Linked DNA regions of Homo sapiens: region 2 is linked to region 1. The links come from fine-mapping of genetic effects on gene expression. A gene starts in region 1. The other region holds a variant in brackets. All regions are shown on one strand. Distances are from middle to middle. Region 1 holds the start of RAB38 (RAB38, member RAS oncogene family). Region 2 overlaps CTSC (cathepsin C).

The links.
Region 2: its variant is fine-mapped to the expression of RAB38 in whole blood (TOPMed, PIP above 0.99).

Annotation. Positions count from the first base shown.
Region 1 is chr11:88,170,085-88,183,191 of GRCh38, forward strand. It overlaps RAB38 (RAB38, member RAS oncogene family), which reads right to left and starts at 5,359. Exons shown (of 3, transcript NM_022337.3): 1 at 5,099-5,359. The coding sequence starts at 5,300. MIR3166 (microRNA 3166) reads left to right here and starts at 6,418; the gene lies at 6,418-6,509.
Region 2 is chr11:88,284,469-88,295,366 of GRCh38, forward strand. It overlaps CTSC (cathepsin C), which reads right to left. Exons shown (of 7, transcript NM_001814.6): 7 at 9,124-10,040. The coding sequence ends at 9,538. Among named protein-coding and RNA genes, the nearest start is that of CTSC, 48 kb to the right of the region's middle. The variant C/G (reference allele first, on the strand shown) is at 6,155.

The sequences.
Region 1 (13,107 bases):
GAATCAGTCCTCTAAAACCCAGATGACACGACATGTCCTGCCTTGAGGCGTTTTCTCCATATATCCCTCATTCCTACTTTGAAAGTTCACCATTTTTGCTCACTGTACACATTATTTACCCGTAAGAACATAGCATGTTATTTTACGTGGCATTTAGAAAATCTGTAATTAGCTAAGCTAGAAACAAGGCAATAAACTGCCCAGTGGAGCATGGCTCAGACTCGATATGCATTTTGGGGGGTTTTATTTGACACACTCATCGCCAAATTTAGCTCTTTCTACATTCCTAGACCTACTACTTTGACATTTAAGACCCATCTTCTACAACTGCTTGAAGAAATAGTCTTTCAGAAATCGGTACTAAAGAGATAGTTAAGTCCGAATCCTATCTTTGGTTGAATTTCACAACCTGAAAGAACTTCACAAACTCTAAAACAACATAACAATGTGACCCAAATAAGTGTCAGAGTTGCTGGTGTGAAGAGTCAGTTTAAGGACTCCTGACACTGGGCCTGGGCTGCCTTCATCCTGTTACTTTGTCTATGGGACAGTTAATGTATTCTTCTGCTGTCATGTCACATGGCTTAGGTGGGGGAAGCTGGTATAGATGTGCCTTGAGTGGAAATATTTTTCTTATAGGGTAGATCTTATTTTAAGTATTTAGAGGCATTTGTTATTTAGCAGAGCTCTGCAGTCAAACTTTTACATAGCAAAGAAACACTCGAAACACTCTCTAAATTGTCTGCCAACTTAATTTATTTTCCACTATAGCAATATAAAACTGGATTGGGTTTTTTTATTACCAACAGACTTGGTTATCTCACTCATACAAGTAAGCTGAAGCTAAACAGACCGACTGTTCCTATTCTCCTCTGCCACTTATGATCTCAGGCAACTCTCTTACCTCTCTCATTTTTTATCTTTTTAAATAAAATTGGGTTTAGGACTATCTGCTTGTCTACACCCTCAGCAATGCTGGGGAGATCAAGTGGGAAAATGTATGTGAAAACAGTCTGTAATAATAACAATTATGACAACAGGAATAATAGCTAACACTCATTCAGCATTTATTATGTGTCAGGCACAGCTTTGCATAAATTAACTCATTTAATTCTTACAAAAATACTAAGATGCAGGTATTGTTATTATTCCCATTTTACAGACAGAAAACGAAGGCACAGAGGCTAAGTAACTCACACAAGTCACAAAGCTAGTAAGTAAAGAAGCTGGAATAAATGACCATGTGCTACCTATACCCTGAGGACAGTGATAATAAACCTTTTGCTTACAGAGACTACAAAAGATAAAATAAGTATCACAGGAAAATTAAATAATCATCATTTTATAGATGAGGCAATTGAGGTTCAGCAAGGTTTCACAGTTTGCCTAATTATATTTTCAGAGTATCTAAATTTAGAATATATTTAAACTATGTCTGAAGTGCTCTGTTTTCAAATTAAGGACAGTAGAGCAAATCTTTTGAAAACAGATTCAATGGTCAATTTTAAATTCTAGTGGCCTAACCAGCTATTATACTGGGAAATTATAGATTAAATATGCCTGGACATTCATAAGAATAAGGGCTTAAGAAATATTAGCTACTATCCCTATAAATGTCCCAATGCCTAGATCAGAGTCCCAAAGCACATCAAGAGTTCTAGACAAGATAGTACAGTTCTTTTTGAAAGGGTGAATGAGCAATTATAGTCTCTGGATTTGGAGAGTAATAAAAAAGTGGAGTCTCAAGTGTGAACTTTTTGTTTTCATTTTCCCTAAATGACCTATTTTTTTAAAAACTCTATAAATTCACATCCTAATCAAGATAAAATTTTCAGAAATAGATTTTAATTCATTCCTTTTCACTGAATGCACAGTGGTACTTAATAATACCAAAAATCCAGTTAGAAAGGAGAAGGTAAGTTTAACCCACCTACTAATGAAACAACACCTTTAAAAAGAAGGCATAATCCCTGTGGGCCAGCTGTGTGCCAGGCACTCACAGGCCAGCAAGTGCAAACAGCAAGGCTTGACTCTGAGTGAAACGGAACCGGGTCAAATCTGGCTCTTCCTCTACTAGCTGGGTGGCCTCAGGCAAAGTTACTTCATTTCTTTGACTCTATCAGGAGCCTCTGAACACACAGCTGACCTTCTAGCATGGAATCACTGGAATCCAGGCCAACTGCTGTCCCCTATGGGGTTTGGTGGGATTTATCATCTTGTTTCAAGGCCTACTTCACAAGACCCCAGAGATACTTTTTGGAGTCTTTCAAGATCAGACTGGCCAATCTACATGGCTATAAGAGACACATCATGGGAATTTAGTAGATTAAAAAGGGCCCTATTTGGCATTGAACCAAATGAGTATCAAGAGTCTAGCTGAGCCAAGATTCCCTTAATAACAAATGTATATGATATCCTATCAGAACAGTGCAGGTCTTCTCTATCTCATTGAACACCCACAACCTTCTCAAAGCTAGGCCCACTAACCTCCACTACCTGCTCTCTCCGGGGACACACCAGAGTTGAACACTAAGGACGGAGAGATGCATTCTTATCTGTGGACAGACAGGCTGTGATTTGAAAGTACTATAAGGTACACCTGGCTGACTGGAGTCTGGGTGGGCAGTTGAGGTTGTATTTCACATGAACTCATAACCCACATGGCTCCCTATGCAGCTTAAACCATGAAACATGGAGCACGTGCATGTTCCAACCATTTCCTACAGTGGCCTAGCTTTCACCCAATTCACTGTGCCTGCTGTCCAATCTATAATTCAGCTAACAGGGCCTTTGGGCTTAAGGCTGCTAAAGACAGGTTACCACTGAGCATTAGAGCTCTGGGAAAAACAAGCTCCTCTACTGAGATGTTGAATGTAACACCACCGCAGTATCTGTAGAATGAACTTCCCAAGACTTCAGATTTCTTATTTATACAGACTTCTGTGACTACAGCCTCCACTGCAACTTCAGTCTACAAAACATGGCTAACGAAGTGCTTTCGAGCTTGGGAGTTAAATTGCTCCTGAGAGTATGTCAGGAGCAAAGCTGAAAATGGTGATAACTTGGGGACAAAATATATATGTAATATTGGGATCACAATTTATTAGGAATTAATAAGCACTTGTATATCATATCCTTCTTGCCTAGCATTTATATAGGCTTAAAAAAATGGTAGCTAGTGTGATAATAATCCTTGCAGATCTCCTAGAGAACAGGCATGATCACCTTCAGCTAGCACTGTTGGTTGCTCACCTGTCATCTATTGGGAGAAAGCATTCTCCCTGTTTACAAGTAAGGAAACCAAAACAAGGAGGTTAGAGAACTTACCTAAGATTGCCTACTACATGCAGAGTAAAGTAAGGATCCAGATGGAGGCAGTTCAACTCTGGAATTTGGGCTATTAATCACTGTACCCTTCCATCTCTTCTGTTTATGTGAGGAGACTGAAATCTACAGACATAGAACTTCTCTGCTGTCATGCTGTTACCTGGATTGTACACAGAAGTCCAAATTACAGCTACATCCCCGTTTAAACAGTAAGCCGTTTCTAAATCTGAATCCTGAGGACTTTCGAGCAGCCAGAAGGGTTTTCAGACATTATGACATGCAGCAAGAAAGTACACAGAGAGAATTTTTTTAGATGAAAAGCCCCATCCAACAGTGGCTGATAACATTTTCTGTTCTCTGATAACCCCCTTGCTACTAGAGCAGCTGAAGATGACTCCAAATGCATGAATCTGTTCATCTGTTCACATGCTAAAAGAAAAAGGCCTGGCAGTTCATGATTAAAGAGGCACGAAAGTCCCCAGATCACAAATGCCCTTTCAAAAATTTTCCACATTTGTTCTAGTTTCAAGCCATGATAAAGAGTTTCCAATCAAATGCATCAGCTAAAATGAATCCATTTTCTGAAACAGAAGTGGCTAGTTTGGGTCCAGCACTTATAACGAAAGGTTCCTGGTGTCACAGACCATGAAATAAGACTGTTTGAAGTTGTTCCCATGGAGAATCCCAGAGGACTTTAAAACTTCTGAGCAGGAAGATCCTTGACCCTTGCCCAACTCCTTTCCACTTAACAGCGATGCAACTGAGCTGAAGAGACTTGTCCAAAGCCACTGAGCAGGTTAGTTAGTGGCAGGGCTAAAATCTGTAATGAGGGGTTGGTCATGCGCAGGTTGCAAACAGCCTTGTCCAAGGATTCACACTTGGAGTAGATACATTGCACCCTCACTTTTGACTAGGCCTAACTTCTGGTACAAACCTGTGGAGTCAAAATCTGATTTTAAATATTGTAAAAAACAAAAACAAACAACCTCTCATTTTTCAGATCTCTCAATGAAAACTTTAGGGCCAAATCAAGAAATCATAAGGCTATCATAGGCCCTTACATAAAAATGGCCTTAAAATATACACACAACCTCCTTTTCATAGAAGACAGAGAGCCAGAGAGATAGAAATACAGAAAGAGAGGGAGAAAGAATACTTTGCCCCTGACATATACACACAAAAGTACTTGGCTTACTGTAAGCAAAAAGCAAAAAAAAAAAAAAAAAAAAACAAAACAAAAACCCTCAAACTCCTTTGTCTTAAGGGCAGAGAGAAAGGTGACAAAATTTGAAATAAAGTGAGCCACTGAAGACAGGAATGGGCAAACTCCAGCTAGCCTGGAACTATCCCGGTTTCCTCTGTGAACCAGCCTAGGGGCTTCCCCTCGGTCCGCCCCTGCACGGAAGGACGTGCGTGACACTGGGCTGCGTCATTGGCAGAACTGCCCGCGCCCAGAAAACGAGCTGGAGTGGAGAACAGAATGCAATTGCAGACAATCTTCCTCTGGTTCCCTGGGGAGGCCTGCTCTGGGCAGAGAGATCCCAGGGGACTGTGCGGGAAGGAGCTAAAGCAATAGCCCAAAAGCGCCAGGGAATGCACTTGAAGTTTCAGACGTTTTTCTTTTCTTTGAAACTAAGTTTCCAGCCCACCAGGAAAAACTGCCTCGCGACCTAGTGATTTTAATCTCACGCTTGGCCGCAAGCCGCTGCCTCGAGACTGGAAACCGGCCGCGAGGCGCTCTATCCCCCTGACCCCCTCCCCCCGCGCTCACCTGCGATATCCCAGAGCTGCAGGCGCACCACAGTCTCCGGGTCCCAGTGGAGCACCTTGAGCGCGAAGTCCACGCCGATTGTGGCCCGGTAGTGCGAAGAGAAGTTCTGGTGCACGTAGCGCTTGATGATACTGGTCTTCCCCACGCCCAGGTCGCCAATCACCAGCAACTTGTACAGGTGCTCCTTGTGCGGGGCCTGCATCCTGGCGGCCGGCCAGACGTGCCGTGCCTGACCAGGGAAGCGCAGCCTGGGCTCTGCGCACGAGAGAGACTTGGGGAGCGCAAGTGTAGGTGCAGAGAGAGGCGTGGGCGGCGGGGCGGGGGCTGGGGGGCGGAACTCCTCCCCTAGGGGTTAATCCTCCTTCCTACTCCGCGGTCTTGGAGAGGGGAGGAGACAGGAGCGAGTCCCGGGACTGGCAGCTGAAAGGGGTTCGCGTGTGGTTGCCTGTTGCAGCGCTTATTTATCCGGCGCTTTAGAGTTTCCGAAGAGCTGTTTTCACCTGTGACCCTGGCCACAAACTTGTGAGGTGTGGATCTTATTTTCCACGTTTTGCTTGCGAGAAAACTGATTGTGAAAAAGTACTCTGCGGGAGATGGCCGGTGAAAGGCCCCGTTGACCACAGGTCTGAAGTCACAGGCTCTTAACTACCCCACACTGTAGAGAGAAATTACAGTATTAGGAAGCCCAAGACTGGCTGGGCTTGGTTCCTGCGTGCCCTGGTTTTTAAGTTGAGGGACCATAAGTAAGTCATTTGAGCTCTCACAGCCTGTTATTTCTCAATGAATGGCAATGCTGACCTCTGAGCAGCTTGGAGGTGGGAACACTGAGCACTTTCACACCCATTCAACTGGTAATCAGTTAACAAGGAGGACAACTGGGCCGAAAATGCCAAGGGCACTGGTGACTTTTAGCCTCTTCCCATATCCTAAAAACTCAGAGCTGCACAGAAAGACAGTTTTAACAATCGGTCAGATTATTACAAATAATAATAATGGCAAACATTTATTGAGCACTCGCTATATGCCAGAGGGTTTATAAATTATGTCATTTAGTCATCCCAGCTGTCTTAATAATAGATACCATTTTTCTTCCTATTTTACAAATGAGGAAGCTAAGGACCAGACATTTTAAGTAATGGACCCAGAGTCAAATAGTAAGGAAAAAAACCAAATTCAAACATAGGTCTTTAGGTTCCCAACTTCTTTTTGTTGTTTTTGTTGTTTGTTTTCATTCATTTGACCAATATACATTTTATTACCAATTAATATATGACAAATTGTACTTATTTTGTCTTGTCTGTCTCCACCTACAAGAAGGTAAATTTTTTTGAGGCCAGTAGGCATTGTCTGCGTTAGGATTTCTGTATCATCCTCCTAACGCAGACAATGCCTACTGGCCTAAGAAAAATTTACCTTCTTGTGGGTGGAGACAGGACAAGACAAAATAAATACAATTTGTCATATATTAATTGGTAATAAAATAAGGCAGAAAGGGGATGTGAAGAGATTATATGGGGTTTGCCTTTTAGATAGGGTGGCCAGGGAAGGTTTCAGTAAGATGGAGACAATTTAGTAAAGACATAAAGAAAATGAGAAATTGGGCATTCAGGGCTAGGGGGTGAGCAGTTTATACCAAAATGAGCTATTTTGTACCTGAATGTGCTGTGAAGGAGCTCTGCTCACATTCTATCATTTCATCTTCTCAATTGCTTTATGAAGTGGGTTATTTTCTTCAATTTATAAATAAGGAAACCAAGATTAACAGCAGCTTTCTCAAGGGCACACATAACTAGTATGTGTTAGAACTAGGACTTAAACACAGGCCTGTGTGAAAGGGAGAAAGGAGGTTTGGCAAGGCCATTGTCTTTCTGCCTTCCTCTTCTGGCCTGACACTCCCTAAACTTTAGCCTCCACATGCCCCAAACAAGCAGAGGGATGCTGAAGATGTGTACCCGGGACAAGTCACATAACCTCTGAGCCTTGGTTTCCACATCAACGAAAGGAGAATGATAATACCTATGGCAGGGCATGGTTGCTCATGATTGTAATCCAAGCACTTTGGGAGGCTGAGGTGGGTGAATCACTTGAGGTCAGGAGTTCAAGACCAGCCTGGCCAACATGGTGAAACCCGTCTCTACTAAAAATACAAAAATTAGCCGGGCGTGGTGGCAGGTGACTATAATCCCAGCTACTTGAGAGGCTGAGACAGGAGACTATCTTGAACCAGGGATGCAGAGGTTGCAGTGAGCCAAGATCACACCATTGCTCTCCAGCCTGGGTAACCTGAGCAAGACTCTATCTCTAAATAAATAAATAAATAAATAAATAAATAAATACAAATGAAATTGTTGATAAAATGCTGGGTCCATAGTAGGTGGTAAATAAATTGTAGCTATTACTATGAAATGAGGGACAAGCTTAAAATACTGTCCACAGGCACTGTCCTGTGCAGTTTCATCTTTCCTCAGAGAGTAACTCAGAAGTTTTGCTCAGAATGGACACTAAGTGACAGTGTGTAGAATTGCAGTCGTTTGTGTTTTATTGAAGTGCTTAGCTGGGTAGGCCTCATTTACTGGTTTCCACCCATGCGAGGACACACCAAGAAGATCACATCTAACAAGTGAGACAAATACTCTACCTGCTTAAAGAATTAGCCAACAATGTCACCTCACTTCCCAGGGAGGGGAATTCAGTAGCCCAAGATGCTTAAGCCATTCTAAATGCCTGCAAAATTAGGGAGGATGACAAAATGAGACCTTTGCCAGCTCTAAAATCCTGGGTCTGTAAATCTGAGAGACAGGCTTTGTCTGGCCAACAAGCTCCTGGGGTAGAAACAAGGTAGGAGTTTGAGACATCTTGTGGGCCAGCCTTCAAAATTATACCCAACCCAACTTTCTTACCAGCCCCGTACTGTTTTCCCAAGCCTGGTCCCGGCAGAGTCATCCTCACCCTTATCTGTTCTCTTTTGAGCAAGAGCATATTGGAACATCAGACATTTGGATTTATGAGGTAGGACAGGCAGGGCAAAGTTCAGGATTTCTGGTCCTGAAGCTGATAAAATTGGAGGAAGTAGCTTTTTGAGCAAAAGAATGCAAAATCAAAAATATATAATTAGGTCTAGGGCCTTGGAAGGGGTCCTGAAGCTTCAGTTTTATTGCCTCTCTGGGGGTAGGAGATTCCTCTCTCAGGGACAGCAGCCAACCATGGTGAGCAAGTTCCTTGGCCAGGCAGGAAGTATGTGCAGTTTTGTTTCCAGCCGTACTCATTTAGGTCTCATGATCATTCTTCACAGTGGGAAGAAATTACTCTCGGTTTATATTTTTAAGACTTTTAGATTACAGTAGCTTGGTAAGCACCCCAGCCTAGCAGTTCAGTAAAATCTTCGTAAAAGGCGCCTAGGTCTCTGAACCTGAAAGTCCCTTGGGTAAAATGAGGGAGTTAGGTTGCAAGATCTCTGGAAAGTCCTTTGGACTCTAAAATATCAGAATTCTGGGTCTTCTAGACATTGTCTAGTAGGAGTGACACCCTAGCTGATTCTAGTCACCCCACAAGAGCACCACTGCCAAAGAGGTGATGTTTTCTCTCCTCTTTTAGGTTTGGAAGAAAGGCCATCTCAAAGCAAACATGATGCCATAGTTCTCCTCTGGTTTCATGGTGCTATTCTTTCCTCTGCTGCTGTACATTTTCCCACAAGACAAAGGCAATCCAAGAACATTCTTTTTGGAGGACAAACCTTCATGTACTCCCCTTCCTTGCTTTGAACTTATTTTCTACACTCAGAACTAGGCTGCAGACAGGGAGCCAGGTAGCCAGGGACAAACTATAAACTGGATCAAGCCAGACAGTGAATAGATGGAAAGGATATTATCAAGCAGCTAGACCATTCTTGCCTCCTCTTTCATTCAACCCTGTCCCCTGCAATTATGATGCTTCTTCAGAACCTATCTTCCCCAACCTGAACATATACCTGTCAAGATGGCTTAGGATTATCAGGAGGATCTCAGCTTTTTCTGACACAAAAGATCCAGTGCTTCCTCCCCATGGAGAGAACAGCTGTGCCATTCGTCCCCCTCCCAGCAGCCACACTGCACCATGGAAACCTGTTCTCCACAGTAATTCTCAAAACATCTCTGGTGATGTTTTGACAAGCTTACTACCCTCAAATTGCTAAACCACAGCACATCTTCTCACCAAGGTCGGGAAGGCTGATGACTCAAGTTTGTAAAAGGTGTGTGAGACCACAAAGTGCTCAGAATTCAAGCCAAGAATGATATCCCAGAAGGCACAGCATTAGGTTTCTCTTAGTCTCCATTCCCTTTCTGTCCAATGTGGGTACTTAGTCTTATGAAATGGAAAAACTACAATGATTGCAAATTGCTTTGCAAATGTAAACTTGAAGGGACAAACCCTCATGTTTTCCTCCTAGAGCTGCTGTGTTTGGTGAGCCCCTGTGAAGTCACATTATTTGCTTTTGCCATTAAGAGAGCCATGGGGAGTTATTCATTAGCTTATGTGAGCTTTTAATTATTGCTCTGAAGAAATATGTAAATGACTGCAAGATGGGGTCCCAAGGGCTCTGTTATAGAAAAGGTAATCTAATTTTTCTTAGATTAATACAAGAAATATATCTTACAACAGATGAATTTTACTCTGCAAAAGGCCTGGAAGAAATGACCATATATTTTATCATTCAAACTATGACTCTTGAGAGTGAAAGGGGGCACTATGAATAATTACACCAAACAACAGGAACAAGCCAGGACTTTCCTAAAGAATATTCATTCCTAAAGAAGAGGGAGAAGTTGAGGCTCTCAAATGAGATCTACAGCTATAGGGGCTTTGGAAAATTCTCCTAAACCACAATTTTAATAAATAGGTCTGCCAAGTTAAAGTTGCAGCTTATTTCTTTCTTGTCTTCAAAAAGTTCTCTCTTTACCCACTAGGCTTGTCTGAAACCTGTGCTAACTTGCAATTTGAGTCATCTAGTATTGATTCAGGATTGCAGCAGATGTCTAGAAGTAGGAAGCAACTTTTGGGTTATTTGGAGAGAGGCCAAGATGGATTCTGTATGGGATGTTCTTGAAATAAATACTCTTCAGTCTATGAGAAATTTCTGGCTAGATTTTTTTCCAGAAAAAAAAAGACTACAATAGGATATTTACGGGTTATCATGAGAAACTGATTGTAAGTGCATTTTTTAACCCACCAGTAGTATGAATCAAGAAAACCAGAGTATGACCTAAACCATTTTCAGCAGTGTATTTATCACCAACTAAAATTATGTGCCTTAGCTGTGCCAGACAGGCATGGCTGAATCGGGGTGTATTTTTCTACTAACACATCTAACATGGATGAGTGGAAATAAGCTATGGAATGGCCGAAAGGCAAGCATCTGAGAACATGGAGAAAAATGATTCTGTATGTACTAGAATTTCAACTTCCTTATCCTGGGAACCTACAATGAGCTAAGCCCTTTATCTTGGTAAGTTTATTTGATCTTCACGACCACTCTGTAGCAAGTATCTTCACTTTATAATGAGGGAAATAGGGCTCAAAGAATTTAAATAATTTTTCCAAAGTCACAGATATGGAGTGACAGCATGAGAATCGTAACCAGTAATTCCTAAATCTGTGCTTTTTCTACTATACCACACTCCTTTAGCATGTGATAAATTCCAGGTCCAGGCTTCTACTGTAGCTTTGTTTCTGCTATGCTACTAAATATTCAGGCTATAAAGAAAAGAGATTGATTCTATTTCCATTTGATAAAGTCTTAACTATGCAGGGAAACAGCCAATAAAGGAAGAAAAGAAAAATCTATGATTCAAAGATAAAAGGATATATCCCATAATCTCTCACCAACTCGGGCAGAAAGTCAACACAAGTAAAAGTGGCATGCTGTGCATTTGTGGGGAGAGGTCTGACCCAGTGCACATAGAGAGCATATACAAGGAATCTACTTCTGTTGCTCTCAGAGAAGGCGATAGGATAGTACTGAGGCTGTACAGTGAATGAACCCCTATTCCATAATGGGTGATGACAGAGAGACTGGTAGGGTCTAGCTCAGAAGGTTAACGCAAGAAAATTACTGACAGACCATCACAGCATAAACGAAGAAATATTTATGTACAAAGCATTGTAACAGAGTTTTTTGAGGATCAGGGTCAGAAGAAAGGTCTCACGTTTATCTCAAAGAGTGTATAAGATATAAGTCCCTGCCATCAAAAATGCTTCCATTCTGGTTAAAGCATCAGCATGTATACACATGACCTTCTGCCTTCCACTCTGACCTTCTTAGACTCCTTCACAACTTCCCTTCTTTTCTGCCCATCCACTAAAGTTTGCTATTCTTCATCCTTGGGACTCTGACTTTCCCTGCTTGAGCTCATCTACTCCTGTGACAATAGAGCAAATGGGGTTAGGAACTCTGGAATCAGGTGAGCTTACCTGATTTCACATTCAAGTTCTACCACTACCCAGTCATAAGAACTTTGTAAAGTAGTTTAACTTTTGCAAGCTTGTCCCTTCATGTATAAAATGAGGATAATAATTTTAACCTCCTATTTTTTTTTTGAGAAGACCAAATAAAATTCTGTGAAGTGCTTAGCATAGTGCTTGGCCCAGGATATGCACTGAAAAGAACATGTTGTTAAACTATCAAATGTCTGCTGATGATTTCTATATCTGTATTTAAAACACAACCTTACTCCTGCATTCCATAAACTTGTTCCAACTGCCCGTTGGGCATTTCTACCAGGCTTTCTGGCAGACAGTTTAAATGCAACATGTGCAAAACTGAACTCATTATCTACCCTAACAGACTTGTTCCCTTTCCTGTATTCCTGGTTTTTGGTCAGTGGTTCCACCCTCACCAAAGTCTACCAAGCTCAAAAACTCAGTCACTCTTGATTCCTCTCTCTTTGTTACCCATCTCAGACAAATTCCTGACAGCATTTCCACTACTTCACAAAATTACTATTATAACAAAAAGGTGAATATTTATGCATTATTATTGTGGAGAAAGGACCTTTGAATATTATGTGAAAGGCAGAAATAATAAAAGGAAAAAAAAAAAACTAAACGTGTAGACATTAACAATTACCAGAAGCAAGAAAAATGATACTTTCAGAATGAGAAAAATTTTACAACATTTAAGACAGGCAAAAGGAAATATACCTTATATTAAATTGTTCTAATAATTTTTTAAACACTAAATTAGATAAAGATATAAATAAGCAATTGACCACACAAGACAAACAAAAAGCCAATAATGTGAAAAGTGTATTTTTCACTAGGATAGTAATAAAAGTATGAAAATTAAGCAATAATGTAATACCATTTTTTACTTTTTAAATTGACAAATATATTTTAGTACTAAAAATATCCAATTTTGATGAGAATGTAAAAAATGGATACTATCATATGATCCTGTGGTGGGACTAACATAAGAAAAAGTTGTTAAAGGGAAATGTGGTTATATGTATCAAAAACCTTAAAATGCATGTGCCCTTTGTTAATTCCATTTTTAGGAATTTATGGTAAGGAAATCACTAAAGATGTATGTGACGATTTAGCTTTAAGAATTCCGATTGCAGTGTTGCTTATAAAAACAAAAATTCACAACTCCCTAAATACACATGAGGTTAAATATTGTAATGGTATACGTATGTGCTGGCACATTATACAGCCTTTATAAACAATGTTGAAGAAAATATTGCAGCTGGAAAAATGTTCACAATTTTTTTCATAACATTTTTAAATGGGAGGTCAACAAATCACAAAAAGTTAGAGTCCCCAATTTAGCATAAAATACATAATTTCCATTTTACACAAACATGCACACATTGTCGATGGAAAAAAGGTACAGAAAATTATGTACCCACATATTAGAGTTTATCTCTGGATAGTGAGATTATTGCTTCTTTTTTATATATTTTCCTGCTTTTCTATATTCATTTCATTTTTATGGAAATGTTATTGATATCAAAAGAAGAAAACAAAGTTAAAGT
Region 2 (10,898 bases), 110 kb after region 1:
GCTTCCCATAAGAGTGTTTCCTGGATGTTTGCCAAAGTCAGTACTCTTCATGCCAAAGGGCTCTGAACTGAATTCAATAAAAGTTCATGCAAATACTGCTGGGACTATTCCTTTTTTTATTTTTTATTATTGAAAACTTCAAAAGCCCAGCAGATGGGTAGATCAAATATACAGAAAGAGATCACTGAATGTCCAGATTGACTTTAAACTTTCTGTGAAACCAAATGTATTCTGTGAACTTATTCTAGGTTGATATCTTTCTACCAACATCCTGAAGTACATTACATACAGCAGAGAGGGCCTCAATAATCTTTCTTCTTTTATTTATTTATTTTTTTATACAGGAAGGAATGTTGCTGTCCTTAATACCTCCCTTGCTAATGCACTTGCAAGAAAAATAATCCACTTCCCCTTGGAGGGCTGAGTGTGCTGCCAAAAAAAAAAAAAAAAAAAATTTGAGCTTATAGCATTTGTTGCAAATCTGCTAAACATTATGTTTGCCAAATTCTTCCTAAAAATTGCTATCACATTTCTGGGAAGACACTTGCTGAAAGGAAAAGCTTGTACTGCTTTAGTAGTGGTCAGCTGAAATTCAACCTCTTCAAAGTAGAGCTTGTCATCCATTGCCCACCACCTCCCTCCTGACTTAAATTCTAGGAGGCCACCCTTCTTTTATTTATTCTAGTTTAAGATGCTGAAGGTGTCTTCTTATTTCTCAGGACTTGTGCAATTACGATAGTTTCTTACAAAAGATAAGGAAGAACAAAAGAGATCAGGACCTGAAATATCAACAAACTCCTGGGAAAAGCACAGGAAGAACATCTTGAGGGAAGTATGGTTAAGAGCTATGGTGCTAGAACAGAGACCTGGATTCAAATCCCAAGAAAATGGATGACTTCCTTCGCTTGTCTTATTCCTTATGTGTAAAACAAAATCTATACCAGGAATTCAATGAGACGTTGTATGCAAAGAGCTTACCATACCACCTAGCACAAAGTAAGACCTTGATAAATGGCAGCTATCATTATTATTACCAATAAAGGCAAAACTAACTGGGTCAAAAATAAAGTATCCACTTGGTGAAGCTGCTGCAGGGGACAGTCAAGGTATAAAGAGGCAGCAGTCAGGTTCAAGGGGAGGGGCAGGGGGAAGATAATGTTTGCTCCTGGGTGTAGCAGGAGCACAATGATGGGGAATCCAGGTGCTGCACAAAATGCCCAATTCTTGACAGCATGTAGTGAGCATTTTAAAAAGTCTCTCCATTGGCAGAAGGAATCTAGTTCCCAGGTGGGATTTTACTGGTCAGAGTCTTGGCTCTAGAGACAATGATAGCATGAGTAAGACTACATCTCCACCCCAGAGAAACAGACAAAGGGCTGAGGACTGAGAGAGCCACTAAGGGTCAGGGAACAAATGGAGAGCTCAGTTTCCCAACAGGTCTGACCCCGGATGAGATTATGGCTCAAAGCTGAGTTACCTAACCGGTCTAGCCACCTGAATCTCACCTGCCAAGCCTTTTCAATGGTTCCTCCCAGCCTATAACTGAAAGAAAATTTTAAATAGTAACAATATTGGCATTTTGGAATGGCTACTGCCTAGGGGAAGAGGCACCCATACACATAAAAGTTTACTGCCAGTACTGGGGCTTACACATCTTCATAAGCCTAATGGAATTTTATGCAAATATGGGATAAGTAAGTGAACTTTTCTGGAGAAAGTATCCATAGTTTTCAGCAGTCTCAAAGCAGCTCATGACCCAGCAGGCATGAAGGATCAATGCTTTAAGTAAAGATGTTACAATCTACCTCTTTCCTTCTCATCTTTATTTTGATGAAATGTTGGGTGAGTTGAATGGTTTCATCTTCTATGGCAGAATTTTCCCACATGCTTGGGCCTTCAATTATCACAATAACTTCCCATTTGCTCCCCTCACTTTTTCTTATAAGGGTTTATCACAACTTCTGGTTCATTAAGACATTCTATTCTTATAAATTGTGGCCATGTATTTAATACATTTTATACCTTTTATAGTCATGTCAGTAGGTTCTGTTGGGTGGGGATTACTGCAGAATGGGGTCAATCTGTCACCTTGAAATTGAAGGGAAGTGTCTTAATCTTCTCTCATTGCTTCTATCTTCCCACAGTCTCTTGGCCTCCCATGCCTTTTACTACGCCTCTTGCTTTTTCAAAGCTCAGCTCAAGTTCCAGATTCTCTTTGGAAGCTTCTGGGATTACTTCAACCCTCAGAATTCTTTCCCTCTTCCAAAGTATATAACATTCATTTGGTGCTGGGAAAGTATATAAAGGAATTAGCATGTTGTAGACAGGACTTTTTCAACCTCAGGACTATTGACATTTTGGGCTGGTTAATTCTTCATGTGGAGGCTTGTCCTGTGCACTATAGAATATTTAGCTGTATATCTGGCCTCTATCAACTAGATGCAGTAGCACACTCCCATCCTCGCCCCAGTTATGACAACCCCAAATGTCTACCAACATTAGGGGCAAAATTACCTCTAGTTGAGAACCAGCGTTGAAGAATGATCCCCATGTATCAGGTAATGTACTAGATTATATAGCTTTTATTTCATGGGTATATCCTACTTTCCTACGTTTATCTTCCCTTTAATTCAGTTCACTCACTTATTTTTAATTTATTTTACATTGCGTCTTAACCTTTGCAAAACACTTTAAATCTTTTTTTAAAACAAGGCAAGTTATATGTAAACACTCGTTGCTTCTTTTAAACCTTGGCACAGCCCTTGAAAAAAGATATTAGCAACGCTGTTTAACAGGCAAAGACACTGACTACTAGAAATCTCTGTTCAATAACTGAACAAAGTCCAAATAACAAACATTGGTGGAGCAAAGACTCAATATCAGGATTTTCTGGTTCCAAAGACCATGACATTTTTGTGCCACAATGCTATTTTTAAAAATTGGTACACATTTGTGCATATTTATGGGGGTACATACGGTATTTTGATACATGCATAAAATGTGTCACAATCAAATCTAGGTATTTAGCATATACATAACCTATAACATTTATCATTTCTGTGTTGGGAACATTTCATATCTTCTCTCCTAGTTGTTTTGAAACATACAATATATTATTATTAAATATAGTTACCCTACTGTGCTATCAAACACTAGAACTTATTCCTTTCAACTGAATGCTTGTACCCATTAACCAACATCTCTTTATCCTCTCCCCCAATACCCTTCCAGCCTCTGTTAACCATTATCCTACTCTCTACCTCCATGGGATCCACTGTTTTACCTCCCACATATGAGTGAGAACATGCAATATTTGTTTTTCTGTGCTTGGCTTATTTCACTTAATATAATAACCACAGGTTCCATCAATGTTGCTGCAAATTGCAGGATTTCATTCTATTTTATGGCCCAATAGCATTCCATAGTGTGTATATATACCATGTTTTCTTTATTCATCCATTGATGGACAGCTGACTTAATTCCATATCTTGACTATTGTGAAGAGTGCTGCAATAAACATGGGAATGCAGATATCCTTTTGATATACTGATTTTTCTTTGGATAAATACCCATTGGTAGAATTTCTGGATCATGTGGTAGTTCTATTCTTAGTTTTTTGAGAAACTTCCATATTGTTTTCCATAATAGCTGTGCTAATTTACATTACCACCAAGAGTGCATAAGAGTTCCCTCTTCTCCACATTTTCACAAGTGTCTTTTTACTTTTCGTCTTTTTTATAATAGCCATTCTAACTGGAATGATGTCTCATTGTGATTTTCATTTCCCTAATCATTAGCGATGTTGAGCATTTCTTCATATACCTACTAGCCATTTGTATGTCTTCTTTTGAGAAACGTCTGTTTAGATACTTTGCTCACATTTTAAGGAGATTGTTTGGGTTTTTTGTACGTTTGTTTTTGTTTTTTGATGGTGAGTTGTCTGAGCTCCTTTTATATTCCAGATATTAGTCCCTTGTCGAATGAATCATTTGCAAATATTTTCTCCCATTCTACAGGTTGTCTCTTCCCTTTGTCGGTTGTTACCTTTGCCGTGCAGAAGCTTTTTAGTTTACTATAGCTCCATTTGTATACTTTTTGTTTTGTGTGCCTATGCTTTTGAAATATTAACCATAAAATCTTCGCCTAAGCTAAAGTTCTTGGGCATTTCCTATGTTTTCTTCTAGTATTTGTATAGTTTCAGGTCTTACATTTAAGTCTTTAATTCATGTTGAGTTGACTTTGGTATATGGTGAGTCATAAGGATCTAGTTTCATTCTCCTCCACATCATGGATATCCAGTTTCCCCAGCACCATTTATTGAAGAGGGTGTTCTTTTCCTAGTGTATGTTCTTGGCAACTTTGTCAGTTGGCTGAAAATCTATGAATTTATTTCTGGGTTCTCTAGTGGCACAATGCTGTTTTGTTTACTTTCTTTCCATAGGCTTATCCTTCTCACCCAACTGAATTTTAGCCTGCTGAACTAGGATTGCACCTGCTATCTCTTGGGAATAGTGCCCATTTCTTATAGTGGCATAGAAATAGTCAATCTAAAAGAAAAGCAGACTTTTAGTTCTTCAGAAACCCCCAAAAAGAGAGAATGAAGGTATAAAAATCTGATACTAAAAGCACTTATTTTCTGTCATTTATCTTAAACTACAGTGAAACTATTCAATACTTTTGAAGGTCCAGAAAATACATTACAGAAAAAAAAAATCATCTCAATGATTACTTTAATGCACAACGCTTAGTTTTATGGCGTTTCCCTCATTTCCTCAGGAGAAAGCTATTTCTCTAACTTATTTCTTTCAATTGATTGCTAGGATTTCAATCTCTTTAAGACCTTTTGCATTAGAGGAAGAAAGAAGTCTGCTATTTTTTTCTCAACTTGGGGAGTCTGAAGTTTATCACATTCTTTCCCCATTTAACCACCTACAGACTTGAATTTCAAGAAGACAAATTGTCTTTAAGAACATAAAGTTAAAAACCAAAGTATTACATCAGCATCACATCCTCAAAGTTGGAAAAGAAGAGGTTAAATTTCTTCTACTAACTCTTAAAAGAGATTTAAAGAAAAGGGATATTGAAAAATGGACTTCTCAAAGGAAAAAGGAAAAACACACACACAAAAGGCATGTGCTGCATTTTCTGCCTGAGTTAGTTTATCTCCTGAATTTCCAGTTTCCTATCACTAGGAGGACATAGTATGGCATGACCAGAAAGTCTGCTGAAGTTCCAATTATTTTATGTCCCAGGCAATTTCACGCAAATTTGCACTTTTAATCGGAACTAAAATTCAATGAGGTCAATACTTTACAGTTAATATTTCATTAGGCCCAGTGACTAACTGACCCACTACCAATACACAATTCTAAGTCCATGTGCTGCCCATCAAAGAAGATTCTGATATATCTAAAGCTCCCCAAACTTGGTCAGGAAGATTCTACTTAGCTTTAAACCAAAAATAAACCTTCATTAGAGTTAAGAGATATAACTATATTAACATCACTATATTTAGAAGAAAACTGTTATATTAATCTTTCCAAACCACCACACATGGATTGGCACTCAGAGTACCTGCCCCAAAGAAATGAGAACAGGATTTCTGGGAGGTGGCACAAATCTTGGAAATGATTTTAAAGAACAAGGTGAGGTTACTGGTCTCACAACATTTAAGAATGGAAACATTATTTTGCCATTTTTCTTAATTGGAAGGCAGCAGGTACAATAGAAAGTTCTGGACATATTGAAGCATAGATTTATCTTTATTAGCTGGAAGCTCAGGCATGTTACTTCACCTCTCAAGGCCCATTTTTAGCAAGAGGTGGACTAGATAACCTTCCAGCATTAATGTGATGTGAATCTGTTATGCTTACTTTATCTTCATGCTTTTAGAACCTGAATAGGAAAATCAAATTATTATGACTTTACATTACCTTCAGTCTTTTTCACTTCAAAGTTGCAATGTCTTTTCCCTGGCTGGGTCCTGTTACTCATCCCTGTGGTAGTCTCTCAAACTCCATCACCTCTCAGACTTGTTCTCTTCCCACAGGCAGCAACACAAGAATGGTGGTAGTGAGGGATAAAAAAATTTTATAGTAAAAAATAAAATTAAAACCATATGCCTAACTCATAAAGCTTTTTGCTTTTCTCTGTG[C/G]GTTTCCTTGTGCTAGTGTTCCTCTGTAGGTTCTTTTCGCCCTTAAAAAAACAAACAAAAAACCCCTCATAAGCCCTTCTCTATCCTCTTGTCATAGAGCTTATTTATAGAATACATCTTATCTGATTCCTCATAGCAAAATATTATTTTACAATTTGAGTTCAGAAAAAGATAATATTTATTTACTCCTTACCATATGCTAAGCACTGTTCTATATACTTCATATATATATATATATATATATATATATATATATATATATATGGCATTTAACCCTCAGAGAACTCTATGAAATATGTATACATATTCCTTACTATCCAAATCTATTCAGTTCCTGAGTTCTGTGAGCAAGTTTTTATGATCAGGGAAACTGCATTGTCTTTAATTATCTTTAGCACCTCCATTTGGAATGATGAAGGGCCTGAGTTTAGATAGCAAGTAATGCTGTTAAAAATGCAAATACAAATACATTTAGTTCCTTTGTTGCAATGGTAATGGTTCAGAGAGGACAAATTCATTAGCCGGGTATGGTGGCATGCACCTGTGGTCCCAGGTACACAGGAGGCTGAGGTGGGAGGATGGCTTGGTCCCAAGAGGTTGAGGCTGCAGTGAGCATGACTCAAAAAAAAAGTCAGAAATTCGGACAGTGAGAGAGATATCTATGCCATTTTCTCTACTTTTACAGAAAAGAAAGAAAAGAAAAGGAAGGAAGGAAGGAGAAGGAAGAAGGAAGGAGAAGGAAGAAGGAAGGAGAAGGAAAAAGGAAGGAAGGAGAAGGAAGAAGGAAGGAAGGAGAAGGAAGGAAGGAAGGAGGAAGAAGGAAGGAAGAAGGAAGAAGGAAGGAAAAGGAAGGAAAAGAAAAAAGAAAAAGTAAAGAAAGACAAGAAAAGAAGAGGGAGGGAGGGAGGGAAGGAGGAAGGAGGAAGGAAGGAAGGAGAGAGAGAGATGAAAGAAAGAAAGAAAGAAAGAAAGAAAGAAAGAAAGAAAGGATGCACAGTGCATAGGTAGATAAGGAAACTGCCTAAGGTTTCATGGCTAATAAGATACAGAGTCAAAACTCTTATCCAGGCACTACAGCTCCAGAGTCAATATTATGCTTGTGTTAGACTGCCCAGCTAAATATTATTTTTCTTCTTTGTGACCTGTGGCATCATTTATGTAGATAATCCTTGTAGATTTTCTGGGAATGTCTTTGGGGAGGTTAGCCAGAGTTCCCATCTGATTTTTTTTTCTAGAGCTCCATTTGTTAAAAGACTCCGAGTATGTGTTCTATTAGCATCAATATAAAAAGTTCTAGATACTGACACCAACTGCTTTTTGTACAGCTTAACAGTCTAATCGCATGGTTTGTGGAACCCTAATGTTCCATTTAGTCACTGTATTTGATGAAATCTGCAACATGGATGATATAAATGATCTTTCTGTCATACAGAAACAGGAAAAGCAGACTTCGACAGTAGATAAATCCAAGTTGAAATGTAGTCTATCTTAAGTTCTTATTCTGGGCAATCCCTCATAATCTCTGAAAACTTAGGGCCTCTTCAAATCATTGCTTGTCCTCAAGCAAACATGTTGTATAATCTGACTTCCATGCCAGTTAGGTTCACACCAGTATTTAGCCATTTAATATTTCCTAAAGTATTTAATGAATGACACCAGCAATGAATTTACTTAAGAGCCAGTCAGGGCCCTCATGAAATAGTGCAAAATCACAGGCACTCTACATCATGATGAGTTGTTCTCATGTGTCAGCCGACTGCTGTCCAACTGGAAAACTAGAGAATAAATTCATGCTTACATGTTAAATAGAATTGTGTTTGTTAAACTGACAGATAGTATCTTCATGAATTTTAGTGAAAAAAAACTTATGCTTGATTTCAAAGGTCTGTTTATATGTTCACATAGCAGTGAGGCTGGGCACAAAATAGGATGGAAATTACATTCAATCAGTAACAATAAAAAGAAAATGTATCTCATCTCCTTGGAGGCCTTCCAATGATTCCGACCCTGGCTATGCCTTCCAGTGCTGTTTCTGTGCCACCATGTGGTGAAAAGATCAAAGGTATGTGGCAGCATGCCAGGAGGTCCAGGAAGCCAAACTTTAAATGGTGCATACTCCTGGAGCCCTACTGCAGTTCAAGGAGGGTAAAAACATCATTATAGTGAATTTTAATGCAGAAAATACGTGGGTTTTGCACAAAACTCTGAAACTCAGAATGTTAAGGTGAAATTTCCAAGCATGCAGCTAGTATCCCTGGTGATTGCAGATACTCTGGTGGGAAATGCTGAGATTCAGTGCTCGAAGGTGCTCAAAGAGAACTCGGTTTCGAAGATCTAAGTTTTAAGCATGACTCCATCACTTGCCAGCTGTGTGACCTTGGACACATCTCTTGCCCTCTAAGTTGAGTCTCTATCTGTGCAAAGAGTTTAAATTACATGATCTTTATGGTCCTTTCCAGCTTGAAAAGGCTGTGGTCCGTGTTTATGTTTCAGAGCTCTGACTGCCTTATTCTCCTGTTACATAATTTCTAAGAGAAGGCATATGTTACTTAGCATAGAGGTTTCATATCCACTGTGAAATATCTCTGGGAGATTCCAAAAATCTATTTAAATCTAAGCTGCTAGTATTTCACTCATTAAGCTATTATTGCTCACCTACTGAAGACTAAGCAATACTCCCAAATACAAGATACACACCATAGAAAATAAATTCACCAATATCCAGATTTTGTCAAAACTCTTATTTCTTTTCTCTGAGGTCTCAGACTCATCAAACATCCAAGGATAATTTTAGGATTCACTAGGCATTATCTGAGTATATCTCCCTGTCATAAAGGTTCATAGTTTTGTTTTTAATTGAAATATCTTCAAATGCTTTTCCTTCTTAAATAAATGCTTACATAGGTAACATAAGTGAATCTTACTGAGTCAGTGATAAAAATTCCCTGAAGTAAACATAAACTCCATAATGCAGTTATTTTTAAAACTTTATTTTAAAAATATGAGCATCTATTTTAAAAGTTTTGATAATTATTGCCATTATTTTCTTGTGATTGGTACAATTTAAAAATAAGTCTATGTTTTCACATTGATTTTAAAAAATATAGCATGTTTGAATTACAAATGATTAAGCAAACTCTATTACTTCATAGCTGACCATCTTCCAGAAAATTCCCACTTAATTGAATACTTAGAAAAAAATGGCCAGTGGCCGATTGAAAGGTATATTAAAATTAAGGGCAGTTTTAATTCTGAAGACAAATATCTTCATGGAAATCTATTTGTAAGCTTCTGAGATTGCTGCTGAAAGTCTACAGTCTGTGAATATACCAATTCCCCTTTACAACTGATGCAGATCATTATGAAATACTGGAAGGCATACCCTACAATTTAGGAATTGGTGTGGCTGCCACTGCTATGCTCTCAATTGCACACTCATCAGTTCCTCTGCGGATCCGGAAGTAGCCATTCTCACCCCAGCCGGTGCCCCAGCTGTTTTTAACAATCCAGTAATCCATCCCAGAGGCTGAGTCAGTGCCATAGCCCACAAGCAGAACAGCATGATTAGTCAGCTCAAAGGGGTTGAAAGGGTCTCTTAGACCAGTGTGGTGGTAGATCCCCTTTTTGTAGTGGAGGAAGTCATCATATACTTCAAAAGCAACTGCCATGGGCCCATGATGGACCAACTCAAGCTTCATCAGGGCTTCATTGCAGCCTCCATAGAAACCTCCTACATAGTGGTACTCAGAGGAGTAATAACGAAAGCAGTCTTCCTTCATTTTGCATGGAGAATCAGTGCCTGTGTAGGGGAAGCAAGCTTCTTCCACCAGCCCAAAATCTTGGGCGTACTTTCCTGCAATAAGGTATGGGAAGCCGCCTTCACAGCCTGAAGATGAATAACACACATGGTTACCCCTTAGTAGAAAAAGGATTATCCCATTTTCTATTTTTTCTTCTTTGCTCCATTATTCTTTGCATGTTACCCCTGAAAGTTGTTCTTAGCTTAAGCATCACTTCATTCATCCATCCATTTTCCAACTAGCTAACTATCCTTTCATCCTCCTTCTACTTAACAGATATCTACTTAGCACCTAATATGGATGTAGCTATGGCAAAGTGGTTAAGTGGGGAGGCTCTGAAGCCTATATAGGTTTAAAGCCAAAGCCGTGTGAAGAGTTTAACTTCTCTGTATCTCTGCTTACTTACCTGTAAAATCTAGATGGTAGTAGTACTTTCCTCATAGGGTTAAATTAGTTACTTCATGTAAAAATAGCAAAAGTTAGGTATTATGGTCATTGCTAAGCAGCCAGACCCCACAACTTGGCTCTTTCTCAAGCAAGTCTTTTCCCTGACAACCTCTTGCCGAAATGTCTTTCCTACCTTCCTCATGCAGTCCTGGCCCTATTATATATATTATAACTCTGTACTTTTTCTTCACTGTTCTTCACTCTGTTGTTATAATTATTTAATCTCTATCTCTTACTTAACTGTAAGCTTCATGAGGATAAAGATTGTCTTGATATATTATAGCCCCTATAGCCTACAAGTCACAACTAGTAGTACATATTTTAGAAAGAATGAAAGGCTCACTGGCAAATAATCACTCATCAGCAGTTTCACTAGTGAGCTGGGAAATTCCTAGTGGCCAAATCTGGGCTTGAAAGCATAAACTTTAAAATGGTAACGTTTCTCCCTCAATCAATTATAGCTGTGTTTTCGACATACATCACATACAGCCTGATCT